Linked DNA regions of Homo sapiens: regions 1 and 3 are each linked to region 2. The links come from fine-mapping of genetic effects on gene expression. A gene starts in region 2. Each other region holds a variant in brackets. All regions are shown on one strand. Distances are between the middles of the regions. Region 1 holds the start of LINC02470 (long intergenic non-protein coding RNA 2470). Region 2 holds the start of CLEC12A (C-type lectin domain family 12 member A). Region 3 holds the start of CLEC1B (C-type lectin domain family 1 member B).

Region 1 (6,056 bases), 30 kb before region 2:
TACATTTTCCCTCATAATTTGGCAGTATCTCCCTATTTTGCTTGGAGCAAAAACTAAACTCTTTACAATAGCCTGCAAGACCCTAATGATCCGCATTCTTCACTCAATCCCTCATTTTAGATAGATTGACTGGCTGCTTCTTTTCTGTTCCTTGAATATTCCAGACATTCACTGGCCTTAAGACACACGCTCCAGCCATTTTCCTTTCCTGGAAAGTTCACTTCTAGATAGTCCCTTACCTGCTTCACATCCTTCCTAAAATGTCACCATCTTATTGGGATATAACCTTACCTGCAGTAAACCCACTCCCTTAATTTTCATTTTTTTGCATAAAACTTTCCAACTTCTAACACAATATATAAATTACATATTTAATAAGATAATTTTTCATTGCTTATCTCTTCCCCTAGCATGTAAACTCCACAAGGGCAAAGATCTTTGATTCTTTGGTTTGCTAATGTATTACACCCTAGGAGTGTGCCTGTCTTTTAGTAGCTATTAAATGAGTTTAATATTGCAAAGAAGAAATCTAACCATTTCATTCTGAGAGTTGAGCCTGGCCAGAGATCCATAACTTCTGCAGTTTTCTCAGCCATTGATCCACGTTGTTTCATGTTCAGATTGAAAGAAGCAATTATTATTGATTCAGTTCCAGCCTTGTGGACACATAGTCAAATTTTCTAGGCATGTCTTGTTTCTAAGGTGCCTTGGAATTCCAACTGAAATTAACAGGTAATAGAGAAAAAGAATAAAGAAAGTATCAAAGAAAGAAAGAGTGAGCTTCAGAGTAAAATATTATTATATAGCTCAGACTAATAAAATGTGTTTTACTTACATATTCAATTTGAATGACTTAACTTTAAACATCAATTCAAAAAAATTGAATATCGAGAAGAGAACATGAAAGGAATAAGCACTGGAGAATGAGAGCTATGAAAAATTTAAAAACTCAATAACAAACTTCCAGAAATTCAGTATCTTCCAGCCATTTTCCCTCCTAATTTTTAGACTACATGAATTTTCTTTATTCATCTATTTCTTTCCTAAAATTTACTATGCTCTCTAGAACAAGTTGCAGTGTAAATAAACAAATTTTTCTATATTCATAACTTCAGTGAGCTGGTTCCTATCATCAACTTAACTGAGACTATATTGTCTTTCAAAGACAGCATTTCTCTAGAAGGTGGCGCTGTTTCCTTGTCCGTTATGAAACAAGAAACACAGAAAAAAGAATGCTAAAATTTCCCTTTTTACTCTCCACTTTTACTCCTTAAGTTACTGCACTAGATAAAGGAAGTTCCTTGTTAAGGTATAATCCTGAAAGAAACAAGCTCTGAGAGCACCTCCTATCCACAACTAAAATAAATGACTGGTTCATCTTCAAATCTGTGAGTGGGAAAATCCTCAATGGGAAGGATCAACTGGCAATATGGTTCTATATAGTTGAGACCTGAGAGTGAAGTGAAAAAATCAAGTTATCAAAGTTATTTGAATGTGTCATGTTCAAAATTATTTTAAAATGTCAAATTCAAATCAATAACCAATATAAAAACCAAATACTTAATTCAAAACTTGGGTCACCAGAAAGGCAGTTTTCTCATTCATTTACTAATTAATTCATTCTTTCATTTACGCAGTCAACAACTACCGATTGAGCACCTGCTACACGCCAGACATTTTTGTAACTCTATGAATAGCCTACATAACATACAGAAATACCTACTCTTATGGGACTTATGCGTCTGAAATTATATAGTTTGTCGTAAAATAGATCAGAGTGAAGGAGAATCAGGGAATCACGGTTGTTGGTAAAATGAGTAGAAAGCAAACCACAAGAATATGGCGTCATGTAAGTCAAATGAAATTTTTTTTTTTTTTTAGAAAAAGGGAGTGCCAAAAGCTGCAAATAGGTTATATAATAAGGTGAGGAGGGAGAATGGACCAGTCGATTTAGCAATATGGAAGTTATTGGTGAACTTGAAAGACAAGTTTGGTGGAAAAAGCAGAGTGGAAGCTTGATCCAAGTGGATTTAACAGAAAAAGGAAAGATAAAAAATTATTTTGAAAAGCCGTTTTAAAGAGGTTGCTGTACCAAGGAGAAAAACAATAAATTGGTTGCTAAAAGATAAGTGGGGTCTAATAAATTCTGTTGTTTTTGTTGTTTATTTTTTCAAGGTTGATATAGATACCAGTATGTCATATTTGCTGATGGAGATGTTTCAGTTGAGGATGAAAAAAGGATAATGTAGGAGAGTGGAGAATTACTAGGGTGATATTACTGATCCAGTGAAAGAATATAGGATCTATTGTAGAACATGAATACTGCATCTACAGTTCCAGGAGTCTAGGCAGAGTGTAGGGGCAGAGATGGAGTAAGTAAGCTGGTGTGGTGATGGGAGCATTTGGAAGTTTCCTACAAATTGTTAAAATTAGAACAAGTTGGAAGCAAGGGTATAGACATGAGAATGAGCATGAGGAGAATGGAGATGAAGGACAAGGTATAAATTGCTAATGAATGGCAGTGAAAGAGTTAATGCACTAGGGAACTATAATACAATTGCCAGTCCCTCACCCTACTTCTTTGTAACTCCATCATAATTATACCTGGTGTGATTCTCTGACATGTGTGTTCTAAGATGATCTTTGATAAACGCCTACTTGAGTTTAAG[A/G]TTCAGCACAAATATTTCTCCCTTCATTAAAGCCTTGACTACAAGCAGCTAACTTATAATCTCCTCTCCTGCTTCAAATTCAACATAGTTCTATTTAGTAATTATTTCTTTTGTGTTACAGTTGTTTGCTTACATGCTTCCATATTCAGTTAAAGATAAACTACTTTCAGGCAAGAAATACCATTTTTTTTCATTGTTATATCATCAGCAGGCAGCACTGTGCCTAAAGCTTGATACATATTTATTGAAAGACTGATTATTCTAGAAGGTGAAGCAGGTGACTAAGTTTGAAGAGCAATTAGATGCACTGTCTTGGAAAATGCTTTTATCTCTAAATTGTTCTATATTAAGGAAGGAAAGACTAGTTATTGGTATCCAACTGAATCAATAATACAATAATTTTAACAATTTAATTTAATAATTTTAGCAGAAATTGTTTACTTACATTTTCTGGGAAATCTTAAAATCCCCCAAAGAAGAAAAGCAATGCCTCCACATATAAAAATTGAGATGATCATTATTTTCCTTTCTATTATACCAAAGAGAAACAGATGTCATTGTTTATGTTCCAGAGAGAAAAAAAGCAAGCAAACCAACAAAAAACCCATCATGTTTATCTCTTTTCTCTATCTTCCGCGTGTTCTACTGTTCACAATTCAGCAATTAATGTATTAGAAAAATAAGAAAGGGAACTAAGACCTAACGTTTGAACATCAGGAGCCTCGAAGGTGCTTTGGCTCCACTTTCCTGTGCTATTTGGCAGAACTGTGTTACTAATTCTTCTGCCCTGCTTCCAGAACAGAAAACCAACAGTTTCCTCGCAGCGTCTTTTAATAAAATACTGCCTTTTCCAAGGGAAAATTCCAAGTATTTTTAATGAAATACTGTCTTTTCCAATATGATGGAGGAGGCTGGAATCGCCAATTATCATTATTATTGAAGTCTTTGTTTTATTAATGAAAACTGCTTTTACTTAAGATCTATATTATGGTCGCTATCCCCTACCCTGCCCTTCCCTCCCAATGCTAAAAGGGTGCAAGCTAGGATCAAGAAAAGATGCTAGAATAATCACACAACCTCACCCACCTGGCGTGTTGGTCTGCTGCTCCACAACCTCCGTCCCATCCTTACTCTCCATCCCTTCTCCCTCCATCTCCAACCCTCACGAGGAAGGCTCATCCTTCTGTGTGTGATCACAGAGGCTGGAATAATCCTGCGGGTGAATTGCAAATTGCTAAGTATATTTGGTGAGTGCAAACCGCAGGAAACTGACGACCCGGTTTTTCTGAGGGGTGGTGCGGCAGCAAGACAGTAGGAGAAACAGCACAGCAACCTAGCATCCTCCACTCAGCCGCGCAGGTGGACTTGGGCCAGATGGCCCCCAGGGGCGTGTCATGTGCCTTCTCTGACGTTTGTACGAGGCAGGGGCAGCAACGGCAGCCGGGCATGCACCAACGGTGCCTCTGCCCCGGCAGCGATGACTCTACAGCCCATGATTTCCGCAGCCCACGATTGGCTGGGGCACAGCGATAAGAATTCAACCTAATGGGCACCTCACCTCCCACCTGCTTGGTACGCAGAGCAGAGAATGGGGAGTCCCATACCCTCCCTTTCCGGCTTCTTTATATTGTCTCCCTAAAAATCTCCGATTGGACACAGGTATATAACATAAATTGCCTGCACTGGAAAGTGTACACATTCTCTCACGCCACAAAGTGGATCTGCCCCCATTTTCTTGTTTTTAATAACTTTTTTCTGTTCTACATTTTTAACCACTGTGTTCTAAGTGTACCTGTGGAGTGTTTAGTAAAATGTGGGAAAACAAAGCCATTGTTTTTACATGTTTTCATAGGAACTAATGAAAGCTTGTTTCATATACAGGCAGTTTTTATTTTGCACTGTAGTGTGTGATAATAAAAATTACTGCACAAGCTGATATCACACCAAGCTATTTTAATAATAGGGAAAAGTATGATTTTTCCTTTATCCTCTTTTCCTGATTGAAAATTACTTTACTGTCACTCATAAACGTATAGGGAAATGTAAACAACAATAAAATTAATATTTTTAAAGTATGCTATAATTAAAACATTAAAAACACTGAGTTTCAAGTGTTTTGCTTAAAAGAAAATGAGTAGTGTGAATTGAGTACGTGCTGTTGTTGTTCTATCGCTTACAATATGGAGCCAGCATCTTTTAGATGCCTTCTCAAGCTTTTTTATTCCTAAATTTGGATAGACTTCCAATATACTATTCTTTGCACTTGAAATGTTAGGAAACACATTGAGAGTTCATTTGATGTGAACACTTTAGCTCGTATAACTTCCTCTGGGACCTCTTCATTCTTTTCATCACAACCACTTACCTTATTTTTGTCAATAAGTGTGCCTTTACTAAATTCCTCTGGTTGCATTATCTAGAGACTCTTCAAAAGGTGAATTATTAATAACCCTATCAACAGCTATTGCTTCTCTAACTTCATTTCTCTTCTATTTTATTTCCCCTTTCAGCGCCATCATTTTTTGCTGCACTTTGTGTCACTAACCAATTTCCTGTTTCAATTACCTTCCTCTTCTTGTCTTCCTGTTTCAAATTTCCTTTGGAATTTGTCATACAGTGACAAACCCATGTGACATTTACAAAATAATACAGAATAACTCTCCATCTTATTCTGTATTAACTGATAAAAGATGCATGGTGACCAATCAATCATTGACAGACTTGGAAAAAAGTGACATGGTTGGTCGTTAATCACAATACAAACATGTATATAGTGATTCGTGAACTGAAAAACTAGCATGGAAGTTTCTACTTTATACAATTACTTACAGTAAATATAATACAAATACAGATAAGTACGCTGAAAGAATTAAACTGTGCTGTTGGGGAGTTATTTAATTAAACTGTGAGAAGTGAAGTTTATGCATATTAGAACCACGCAAAGTAAAGTTTATACACACACCCTACTCCCCACAGACATTCTCTTTAAAATATACATATACGGCCGGGCACTGTGGCTCACGCCTGTAATCCCAGCACATTGGGAGGCTGAGGCAGGCAGAGCATCTGAAGTCAAGGAGTTTGAAACCAGTTTGGCCAACATGGTGAAACCCCGTCTCTACTAAAAATACAAAAATTAGCCTGGTGTGGTGGCAGACGCCTGTAATCCCAGCTACTCAGGAGGCTGAGGCAGGAGAATCGCTTGAACCCAGGAGGCGGAGGTTGTAGTGAGCCGGCGTCCCGCCATTGCACTCCAGCCTGGAGATATATATATATATATAAATTTTCATATATATATATAAATTTTCATATATATACACACACAAATACATATACAAACACATACATATGCATGTATAAGCATATATTGTATGTGTATAGACCTTA
Region 2 (6,056 bases):
ATATGTGAGAGCTAAAAGAATGAATCTCATGGAAGCAGAGAGTAGAATTGTGGTTACCAGAGGCTTAGAAAGGGGTGGTGGGGGATAAAGATAAGTTGGTTGGGTACAAAAATAAAATTAGATAGAAGGAACAAATTCTAGTATTTGATAGTACAGTGGGAAAACTATAGTTGACAATAATTTATTGTATATTTCAAAATAGCTAAAAGAGAAGAAATGTACTATTCCCAACAGAAGGAAAAGGTAAGTGTTTGACGGAATGAATATTCTTATTACCCTGATTTGGTCATTACACATTGTATACAGGTTTCAAAATATCACATGTACCTCCAAAATACATACAACTATTTTGTATCAATAACAAAATTTTTAAAAAACTGATATAGGCTGTGAAGGGCAAACCATGTAGTCATCTCAGAGCTCAGCTTATTCTTGTGGATATAAATGTTTTAGCTGGCTCTAAACCAAGGATTTTGTATGAAGTAATACTTATTCAAATATTTTCAACAAAATAGAGTACCTTGCAAACAGGACTTTGAGATTTTTCATTTGTTTCCCTTTACAGTTCGTCATATACGCTTCATCTTCTAGTGTTGATTGATGAAACAACGTTCCACATGAGACAGCAGAGCAATAGAACACAGAACAGGACTCTGCCTGTGTGGTGGCCGGTTTCCATCCTTTCACAAACAAAGAGATATTTATAAACAAATATTTATATGCAAATATTTGATCCACCTAGGAAAAATAGAGGGCTACTCTTTCCCACCAGGAGAGGCCTTATAGCCTGTGCACATATTTGAACAAGGCAACCAGAGACTTTGATGGTCTCAACTCTACCACTCACCAACTGTGTGATGTTGGATACAAACTTAACCACTTTGCAACTCACTTCCGCATCTGTAAAATAAGGGTGATAATAATAGCACCTGGTTTAGAGAGTTGTAAAGATAAAAGCAACATTAGTAAAGTACTTAGGATGAAGTAATCATGTTTTGAATATATTTTCCTTTAAATGTGGCTGCCAATATTTTCATGGTAATATTTTCAAATGTATTCAATAGCTTTTTCTTTATCAGGAGAAAATCAGTTGTTTTAATTAAATTGACATTGAATTTTTGATACATTTAGGAGAATTTAGTTTCTTTTTATACAGTATTGACGCTTCTAATCCCACAGCATGTTTTTCTATTTTTTTCTTTTCTTCAATAGTTTTAAAATTTTTTTGTTCATTTTGGTTATGCAAATATCTAGTTAATTTCTATCTGTAATATTTTCCTATTTATTTTTAGTAGCTCTTATAAAGGGAGCATTTTGTTTTTCCTGTCTATCCTGACATAATAAAGCAATTAGTTTTTAATTGATTTTTAAAAATATTTATGCATTCTCTTTCATATGTATAATAATAATACCTAACCATTTTATGATTTACATGTGGCAATGTCAAGAAGAATTTTAAAGTAAGATTTACTAACGAATATTAGAGAACATGCTCAAAAACAGTCCTCTCCACCCCCTCACTTCCACTTGCATTCTTGATCAAGAAGTGAAATAAAAAATACTAAGACTATTGAGTCAAACTAATAAGACACAAATCTGGACTTTGGAGACTCATTTCCCTCCCACTTTTGATAGCTTAGCTGAGGAGGAGATCAAATGGTTGAGTCAGTCTGTAGAGAGATAGCAAGGCTGATTATAGTTTTCCTGGCCTGCAAAGCTGTTTCCAGAGCCCTCAGTATACAGACCTTGGCCATCAGTATGCATACTCTCTGGTGTGGTTTCTGGGCATCAGATCCCTTAATATATAGGTTGGCGCTAAAGTAATTTTGTAAACTTTTAATGGCAAAAACCACAATTACTTTTGCTTTTAATGGCAAAAACCAGAATTACTTTAGCACCAACCTATATATTGTTATTTAGAGAAACTAGGCATTCCCTACCTCTCTTAGGCAAACCTATAGCTATGTAACATGGCAACGGAATGACACTAACTGTCTCATTCTCCTTGGGAGTGCTCTCTGTATGTTCAGTCTCCCAGTGAAGAGAACCCTTCTATCAGGACCTTCATCATCATACAAAAGGAATATCTATGCCAGGCCACAGCTGCAGATTAGTGAGTGTCTGAGAACTGCATCTTTTCTGTTATTTTTCTGCTTGAAAGTTTTTCACCAATAAATCCTACACTATGTCTGCACCATGTGGTGCTAGTTATTTGTGTTCTCTTGCATGACACTGATGATGTTATCCAAACACAATTTCAAAAACTACTTTCTGTAGTTGGTAAATATATAGAAATTGAGAAAAAGGAAGAAATATGAGGAAGAAAGATGTTATCTGTTGCAACAGTTCAATGTTCTTAACTGAAGCCACAGATGAGATTTGGCTCATTTGCAGACATATGGGTGATTGGTACAGTAGGTTTATAAACAGAAGTTTAAACTTGTAAGCTTAAGCTTCCGTTTATAAACAGAAGTTTAAAATTATAGGTCCTGTTTAACATTCAGCTCTGTTAACTCACTCATCTTTTTGTGTTTTTACACTTTGTCAAGATTTCTTTACATATTCATCAATGTCTGAAGAAGTTACTTATGCAGATCTTCAATTCCAGAACTCCAGTGAGATGGAAAAAATCCCAGAAATTGGCAAATTTGGGGAAAAAGGTAAGATTTTGAGTTATGGATGTGTTGTAAGTTTGTATAATAGAAGTGGTTATAGACTTGCATCTTCAATATTAGTGATATAGTTACTATTCAACTTAAATTTTCAATTAAGTCTCTTATGTTTAAGCAAAGGAACAAAAAGTGTATGAACAAAATGATTAGAAAAAAGGGTTTTGTAAAAACACTTATCTCTGCATTGAATAATCAATCTTTTACATTTTTGAAATTTTTTATTATCACACTCAATATAATTGGGACAGAATTTTTCAAATGATTGGGTTGTATGAAGATTTTATTTCTTTATGAGATGAAGCCATGGAAAAAGAAACATGTTCAGGAAAGTCATGATTTCATATGTGTGTGTGTGTGTGTGTTTTTTTTTTTATAAGAAAATGCTTTGTGTCAGACAGAGAGACCTTTATAGGATTTCATTTGACTATCTACCAAACTAAGCATAAATCACCCTAAAATTTCTCCTACTTCTTTTGGAGATTTTTTACTAACTTACTAAAAAATAAAACATGTTAAGTTAAATGAAATGAATCATTAAGGAATAAAGGAAGAAAAGAGGTAAAGAAATATCAGAAGACATAATATATTCATAATATTCAAAACCACATTATATCAAGTAACTTTGTATTTTTCAATTCAAATTAAAATCATGAAATAAGTGGTCCATCTGTGTTGACTTTCACTTAAACAAAACTACTCTTCATCTTACTCAGAATCCTATAGTTTTCCTATTATGTATGGTTCTTGCCTTCTGGCTCCTAGCCTTTTGGGAGTGAAATCTGCCCTAGCGAATCCATAGTTTAAATCAGTGTATTTGAGTTAAAAATAACTTAAACAGTGATAGTGGAGAACACAAAGAAGGGTGATAGAAACAGAAAAATAAGGAGAGAAGAGTGCCAAAATTCTCACATATTATTTAAGTTGTTGTCCTCTCTCCTCTCCCCACACAGAATATAACATCTTTAATATTCTAGCATTGCTATAAACAGAAATTTCACTGTTACATCTTGGATCCATTTATGATGAGCATTGTAAATCTTGAGAAAGGATAGCAGATTAATTCTGTTGGCTTCTTTTTTAATACTGAAATTTTTTTTTAGAAAGAAGAAGGGTTTAAGAATTTTACAATATTTTCTGTCTTTATTTCCTTGTTTATATTTCTTCTTTTATACACTGAAAGAGAATGGGCATATCATGAGCCTAATATTACCAACAATTGCCCTTTACTTGTCCTCTCACACCCTTTCCCACCTCTTTTCCTGCCAATCCACCTTAAGTTCCCACCACAAGAATTCCCTGAATTCACGGAAATATTGAATCCATGTCTTCTTCATGTTCTTAATCTCATCTAATTTTCTCATTATCGAGCTTAGAATCTACATTATGTAATATAACATTGTATTATGTAATGTCTACTCTTAGTCTCTTACACTTCTCCTCTTCAATGTGTGTTAATTTTTCCTTAAAAACTCCAGCTCTGGCTAGGTGCAGTGGCTCATACCCATAGTCCTAGCACTTTGAGAGGCCAAGATGGGAGGATTATTTGAGGCCAGAAGTTTGAGACCAGCCTGGGGAAAGTAGAGATATGCCATGTCTATAAAAAAAAAATTTTTTTAATTAACTGGGCACCCATAGTCTCAGCTGCTTGGGAGGCTGAGGAAAGAGGATTACTTGAGTCCAGGAGTTGGAGGCTCTAGTAAGCTAAGATCAGGCGAGTGTACTCCAGTCTGGGTGACACAGCAAGATCCTGCCTCAAACAAATCAAAACAAAACAAGACAAAAACCCCAAAAACAAACAAATAAAAACAACTCCAGTTCTGGTTAAACCCGAATATCCACCCAGTCTGCCCCAGAGTTGAATATTGCTGGTGAAAAATACACAAATTTTCAACCCCAGTTACTCTCACCTTTCCTCTGGTAAGAAAAAAGCATCCATCTACACTTTTTTTTGTTGTTATTTAAATGTCTATCCTACCATGTCCTTACTGATACTCTGCTTTCCTTCCAGATAGTATTTACGATAAGTATGTACTTATGAAGGGACGGCTCCTCATTTTGCTCTGAATTTCAGTCCATGTGTCGTTTTCAAAGACAGACTTCCGTAATTTTTTCCTTTCTCTCCTGTGTCATTATTCTCTCTTCCTTCTCTGCTTTTCCTTTTTGGTGCACCAACATACTCTACTACTCACCAATATACTCTGCTACTCCTTTTATAACAAAACACAATCCTTGCTTGACCACTTAAGCCTTTCCATTATTATTTAACTTCTTTGTTTCCTTTCACAACTCAACTTTTGAAAGCATTTTCTTTGGCCACTGACTCTCAGTTCTTCACCTCTCATTCTGTTCTCAACCAACTCTATTAGGCTTCTGCCCCCTTGGTGCCATAGAGACTGAGCTTTAGGTCACTGATGTCCTGCCTGTTTCATCCCAATAGTCACATGTCTCTTCCATTACTTCACTTCCCTGCAGCATTGAAAAAGTTGAACAGTCCTCTAAATGCTTTCTTTGCACATCCCTCCTGACACATCCTCATGGCTTCTCCTGTCACCATGCCTGCCTCTCCTCATTCTTTGTTGATTCCTCCTCCTAGATGAAACTCTACAAGATGGAATACTCTGAAGCCCTGTCCTGGGTCCCGTTTTATTGCATCACTCAGTACACTCTTCTAATCTACCTCATTCAGTTGTTTGACTTTAAATAGAGTGACTCCCCAATATCTCTGTATGACCTTTCCCTGAATCTCAAGACTAGAAAATACATGTGCCACTTTCACATTTCCATAAGGAGTTCTAATCTCATTTTAAACTTAAAATGTCAAAAATAGTAATATTTATTTTTCTTCTAAAATTGTCTCTCTCTCCAGACAGCCTCATCTCATTAAATACACATATAAATATATATTTAAATACAATTTTCAAGTGTTTTCTCTGTGCCAGTTCTGTTCTAATTGCATTATAAATATTAAATTATTTAGTGTCTGATACTTTGCAGTCTTTCTGTCTCCCATGCTTTAACCATATTGAAACTCAGACACAGAGATGTTAAAAGGTGTTAAATAATTTTCCCGAGGTTTCACAAGCAATAAGCAGCAGAACCAGAATTCAAACCAAAACATACTGATATGGTTTGACTGTGTCTCCACCCAAATCTCATCTTGAATTGTAGCTCCCATAAGTCCCACATGCTGTAGGAGGGACATGGTGGGAGGTAATTGAATCATGGGAGCGGGTTTTTCCCATGCTGTTCTTGTGATAGTGAATAAGTCTCATGAGATCTGATGGTTTTATAAAGAGGAGTTTTCCTGCACAAGTTCTCTCTTGTCTGTGGCCATGTGAGATGTGCCTTTCACCTTCCACCATGAGTGTGAGGCCTCTCCAGCCA
Region 3 (6,056 bases), 28 kb after region 2:
TGGGCTGACTCTTCATGTGTGACCCACTATGTACCTGAGCTGTCAGGAAGGGACAAGTCAATTTGACTGATCAACTCTATCAGTGTTGTAGAATATTATGAGTGGATTGAATATCTGGGTTCTGTAATTCTTACTAGGTTTCACAAGGGTCTTAGATTAGTACAAACTGAAAGATGTTAAGAAAAATGTAAAAAACAAAAAAAGGTCAAGTGTTACATTTGAGGTTTCTCTTCCTTGCCTCCAAAATATTTGACATAAGAATCTTCTTACCACAATGTTCCGGTTGTCAATCTTCAGGAGAGTAGCATTCATGTCAGTGCAGTACTGCTTACTCTCTTCCCATGTTAAGTTGTGCCTGAAGAACCCATAGCAGCTATCTCCATAATATCTCCAGTTTGTGTCACAGGGGCTGCATTTATGACCTTCTGGAGAAACCAAGCACAGGAATGGTGTATTTTTTCTAAATTGGGCTTACATTTTCTTCACATTCAATGTTTTCTGCAGATCTCAAACTCCCTTCAGTTGCCATCAGAGAAATGCTCCAGGGGTTGGAGAGATGAAGAGGTTAAAAAAACAATACTTACTGAAAGTGCCCTTTAGTTCTGATTGTTTTACCACATATTGACAGAAGCGCTTTGCTAATTGTTGCAGAGTTCCTGTGCGATTTTCATTCTCACCTTGTAGGTAATTGCGCTGCATGACAGCTAGGTTTAAAAAGTAAATAATAATAATTTGTAATTAGAACCATAGAAATGATGCAAAGGTCTGTCATTGAATTTTCATTTCCTTAACTTTGCCAATATATGAGGAGTTTACTAGATACACATGATTAAATGAATGTTGAAAAGTGTGGAGGGGCTATAAAGAACAAATTAAGAAATACACAGAACTGACGCCTGAGGGTTAATAAGTGAACTGTTTGAAGGAGACAATCACAAATAAAAAATCCCAACATCGATAACATCCCCAGAGCCTGTATTCATTTGCTTGAATACAAGCTTCTCAGCTGAGTTATAGAGGTGAATGACCTCTTATTTTCTGTTCTTTCTGTGATGCCAAACTATTCATTCATTTAAAAATACATACTGATTTCTTGTTATGCTTAAAGTACTTGTGATATTCAGGTAAATAATAAAGAAATACAAGAGGATAAATGTTAGATTCTAACATCTTTTAAAAAAATCAACAAATACACAAACAAGCAACAACTACACAGACTTCAATGTGCTATTGGAGGGCCATGAGAATTACAGAAAGAAGAAATGCACAGTAACTTAGTAAACAAAATGAGAAACAGAAAATTTTAGGTAGAGAGAATAGAATGAGAAAAATTTCAGACAAGGGAACATGGAATTTATATATGAAATTGAAAAACTCCAGTTTGGCTGGTTCTTAGGAATGCAAGATAGGAAAAGGGATGAAAAAGTTTTTAAAAATAGTTTGGATCCACACTGAGGAGGGTCTTAAAGGCCAGTAGTACATTCTTAAAAATAACTTTTCATTAGTTAAAATCTTAAAATCTTATTTTAATCACAAGGAAACAGTCAGTGTTCTCCTTTATTGAGATTCTCTTGGCAACTATCTGTAGGACAACTGTAGAAGTGATAAACAGACAAATAGCGACCATTGAGAAGCTTAGTGGGATATGCCATGACCCTTCAGTATTACCTTCCTCCAGTCAAATTTCTGGCAGAGTCAACACTTACACCAAATCCCCAGAGCCACCAGCCCGACAACCATCCCCACGCACAGGATCAGCAGAATCAAAGCCATCACACGCCACCAGGAGGAGGATGCAGAGCCAACTGTAGGCATATAATAAAGACATCAAGGAGCAGGCAGTATGGGTTAGCTATGGGGAAGGCTCACCCCTGCCCCTGCCCCTGCCTTCTCAGGGTCCTCCAAGTAATAGAAAGAGCTTTGCTGGCAGATCTCACCTGTGTTCTCCTCATGATCATCAACAATAGGCATGGCCCACCCCTATACCATACATCCATTCTCATCTCCAATGCACTTTACCTCTCCAAGCTGAAATATTACTTGCTGTTAAGGCCTGATGTGTTTGTATTTTTTGTTTTGTTTTGTTTTGTTTTGTTTTGTTTTATGCTCACCCATGCCATAAATAATTGCTTTAATAAACAGCAAATGAAGAATCACACTCATTTGCTCACATATAGAAAATGAAATTTCCACTCTTTTCCGTTATCCCCTTGACTTCTATGCCCTCGAGTATTAAACGCTCAGAATCTTAATGCAATTTTCCCTGCACATATATTGGATGTTTGTAATCTAAATAGGTCTGTATGAGCTTATGAAAACACTACTCAAATGCTTTAGAGCATTAACATCATTCAAGAAAAAGAAATTAAACTATATATATTATCAATAGTAGAAAAAGAAAGAATTGAATCAACTCATTTTTTAAATTAATTTCCAAATTATTGGCTCTGAGCATTCTTACCGGAGATGAGAGCTGGTTTCCGAGTTTTAATATTTAAGGTGATGTATCCATCTTCATCCTGCATGGCTTCCCGAGTACTGCAACTGAGCTCAGAGTTCAATGACTTTGCAAAATGTAGTTTCCAAC[T/TC]TTACAATTTCAGTATCTGTCAGTTTATGATCTTCCTGTCTTTAGTAGGGTAGAACCATGTGAGATGGGACACATTTGTTTTCCTTTGCTTATTGTTTTCCAGGAAGCTTCTTCATAGCTGCTCAGAGATACATGGACCTTGAACACAAAAACACAAAAATAATAATAACTTGTGGTAAAGGAGTAGATAAGGTATTTGCTTCCTGCTTTTTTTTTATCTTCAACACTAAATAAAGGGACATTCCATCATGTGCATCCTTTCTAAGAACAAAAGTTCATGCTTTATCTTAGCCCTAGCTTAGTCTAAATTACATTGCTCAAATGAGAGATTTCTGCTGAAAATTCATGGATATAGCTCACCAGCAGATATATAGTTTATCTCATTGTGAGAAGCAAGTGTAATATAATTGGATCTGATAGGGGCTAAATTAGCTGTTTCATAGTCTTGTGTTGGAAGAGATCATTCCTGATTATGACCTAGAATTTACACAACTTCTTGCATATTTCATACTTTTTTTTATTTGAAGGATCCACATGAGGCAGGCCTGATATTGCTTAGATTTAGGTATTGAAGGAAAACTATCAAATCAAGTAAAATAATACAGAGTTGGTGACTTGCTGCATTGTTCTTTAGTAGTGTTTGTGCTTTAAAGTGAGTTTCCTGGAATGGAAGAATTTTGATTTGATGAAATCACTTCATTTCAAGTACAGCTGTGCTTAGATGAATATTTGAGACTGAATGGTTCCTAGCACCTTTTCATCACAATATAATATGTATTGCACACACTTAACTTTATGAAATGGGCTTTTACATTATTTTAGCTTGCACTGAAAGTAGTTGTAAGAACAGCCATACAAAGCTAGCTGATGCATTTATTATAGGAATATTGGGGAGGATGTTGTCTATTTTGCCATAGGGTAACTCTTACATAGTTTTATGGCAGATTTTTATTTTTGTTAAATCACCATGACTAGCAAAGCTTTAAGTAGTAGGCATTTACCTTATAAATAATTTGAATTCTATTTTTCTTTACTTAGCAGAGTGTTAGACTTTTCAATATAGTGATTATGTGGGCTGCAGTAGCAGATATTTTGTTTATTAACATGCCCTTTGGCATAGCCCGTAGATTTTTTCTCCCCTGCTATCTCCTTCACTCTGAATTTCTTGTCAATTCACTTAAAATTATCTTTCATTCTAAATTTCTTTCTCTATACTCTTCAAATTATTTTGAGAATGAGGTGAAGAATAAGCATAACACGTATAAAAGACATTCCCTGATTTTGGAAAGCCAAACTTAGTATGATTCAAATATTTTTACCAAAACTAATTCTTAATTAAAAAAAAACACATTTGAAATAAATGCCAAATTTTAAGAAAAGACTAAAAATTTTTAAAAAACATTAAATCCCAACACCATTTTTGTTGCTGTGTTTCTTATCTCAGTTAAAATATTCAGGGGTTCCCAATCATAAGCTGGGTAAATTCAGTCACTTACCATTCATCTACCACTGCTTCTGTTCTCATAACTTCTGTTTCAGCTAAAAGGGATTCTTCGCTCTCCCATCATTTATCCTCAGGCTTTTCTGGAAGATTGGGGTTGGAATGGGGTTTGATCCTCCCTCTCTTCCTTCCTTTCTACATCTACTCATCAGCAAGTCCTGAGGCTATTCTGTCACAGTAACCCCTGTCTTTCACGTTCTTTTGGTCACTGCTTTCCTTCAGTGTTTTGTTACCTAAAATATACAGAAACACTAAAAAATAATCGAATAAATAACTGTGACAAAGTAACAGAGAGAAAAGAAAATGTGTGGAGGTTATAGTACAAATGACACTTTTCCAATAAAGCTTTACTCTGTTCTCTTAGGTACCAAACAGGTACATATGAAAACTTAATTTGTTACATTAAATCAGATATGTAAAGGTAAGATCCAAGGACATTGAGACAATTTTTAAATTATTGTAAACATTTTTTGTTTATTAACAAAAACTTTAAGATGGTATTAAAGAGAACAATTAGATTGCTTTGTTGAGGTTTCCACATTCTCTAGGACTTGAGCAGCTGATTTCATTATAAAACATGTCCCATGTATTTTTGTAAACCACCAGGAATGTGCCAGGATTAGTTCTTGATCCTTTAATGCTTAGAACTGCATATTTAATGCCTGAAGTAGGTTAACACTCCGCCTTTGAAGATATTCCTTTCCTATATCTCAGGCTCTGGACTTTCCATTGCTTCATTCCTCTTTCTCATTGTAATTTAACCTTGCTTTTTGGATCTTTGATCATTCCAGCCACAGTCTGAGAGTCTTATATCTTATCTGTGTTCCACAAAATATACGTTTGCCTTTCTGTGTATCCCCCCTCACATGACTTTGTGGTGTTAGAAGCAAGCTGAGCGAAGACAGAGACTCTCAGGGCCAAAGGAACTAGCCCTTGATAACATTGAGTTCTAATTTTGCTCCCTCCCCACATTCTATAAATGTAAGTTGAGTTACTCAGCAAAAATTAAGCAGAGAACTGCAGGAAAGAGAGATAGATATCACAAATGCTTCTTTTCCTTTTCCCAAATCCAGAGTCTTTGCTAGTTACCTTTTAATCACCCTCCAAGTCCCGTTATTAGCTTATTTTATTTCTGCTTCAATATTTTAACCTTGCTTGAATATCTTATTCTCTTCTCCTTTTCTTCACTAAGGAAACTATATACAGCTAAACAAAATCTTTTTTTTTTTTTTTTGAGACTGAGTCTTGCTCTGTCGTCCAGGCTGGAGTGCAGTGGCGCCATCTTGGCTCACTGCAAGCTCCGCCTCCTGGGTTCACGCCGTTCTCCTGCCTCAGCCTCCCGAGTAGCTGGGAGTACAGGCGCCCACCACCACGCCTGGCTAATTTTTTTTGTATTTTTAGTAGAGACGCGGTTTCACCGTGTTAGTCAGGATGGTCTTGATCTCCTGACCTCGTGATCCACCCGCCTCGGCCTCCCAAAGTGCTGGGATTACAGGCTTTAGCTACCGCGCCTGGCCTAAAAAAATTCTTTATTCCAAATTTCCTGATGAAATTGAATTTAAAATAAAACCTTTTATTCATTCAATATTTTACAGATTAAGAACACTCTAAATTGTCTGTTTTAAAGGAAATATTTAATGAATGTTAATTATGTTTCAGACACTGAAATTGGTGCTGAGTATTCATGGAGAAAAATCATGAGGTTAGTCTTTATGAAGCAGAGTGTTAGATTTTAGCTATGTGAACTTCTTTAAAAAAATTTACAAGTTGGGTAATGTTTTTTTTTTTTTTTTTTTTGAGACGGAGTCTCGCTCTGTCGCCCAGGCTGGAGTGCAGTGGCGCGATCTCGGCTCACTGCAAGCTCCGCCTCCCGGGTTCACCCCATTCTCCTGCCACAGCCTCCCAAGTAGTTGGGACTACAGGCGCCCGCCACCACGGCCGGCTAATTTTTTGTATTTTTAATAGAGA

The links.
Region 1: its variant is fine-mapped to the expression of CLEC12A in whole blood (TOPMed, PIP above 0.99).
Region 3: its variant is fine-mapped to the expression of CLEC12A in monocytes after R848 (Quach 2016, PIP 0.95).

Annotation. Positions count from the first base shown.
Region 1 is chr12:9,939,375-9,945,430 of GRCh38, forward strand. LINC02470 (long intergenic non-protein coding RNA 2470) reads right to left here and starts at 4,121. Exons shown (of 5, transcript NR_104634.2): 1 at 3,756-4,121; 2 at 3,115-3,198; 3 at 535-719. The variant A/G (reference allele first, on the strand shown) is at 2,670.
Region 2 is chr12:9,969,028-9,975,083 of GRCh38, forward strand. CLEC12A (C-type lectin domain family 12 member A) reads left to right here and starts at 2,382. Exons shown (of 6, transcript NM_138337.6): 1 at 2,382-2,660. The coding sequence starts at 2,570.
Region 3 is chr12:9,996,576-10,002,631 of GRCh38, forward strand. It overlaps CLEC1B (C-type lectin domain family 1 member B), which reads right to left and starts at 2,546. Exons shown (of 6, transcript NM_016509.4): 1 at 2,462-2,546; 2 at 1,707-1,805; 3 at 585-704; 4 at 271-425. The coding sequence starts at 2,525. It also overlaps a transcript of CLEC12A not described here. The variant T/TC (reference allele first, on the strand shown) is at 2,588.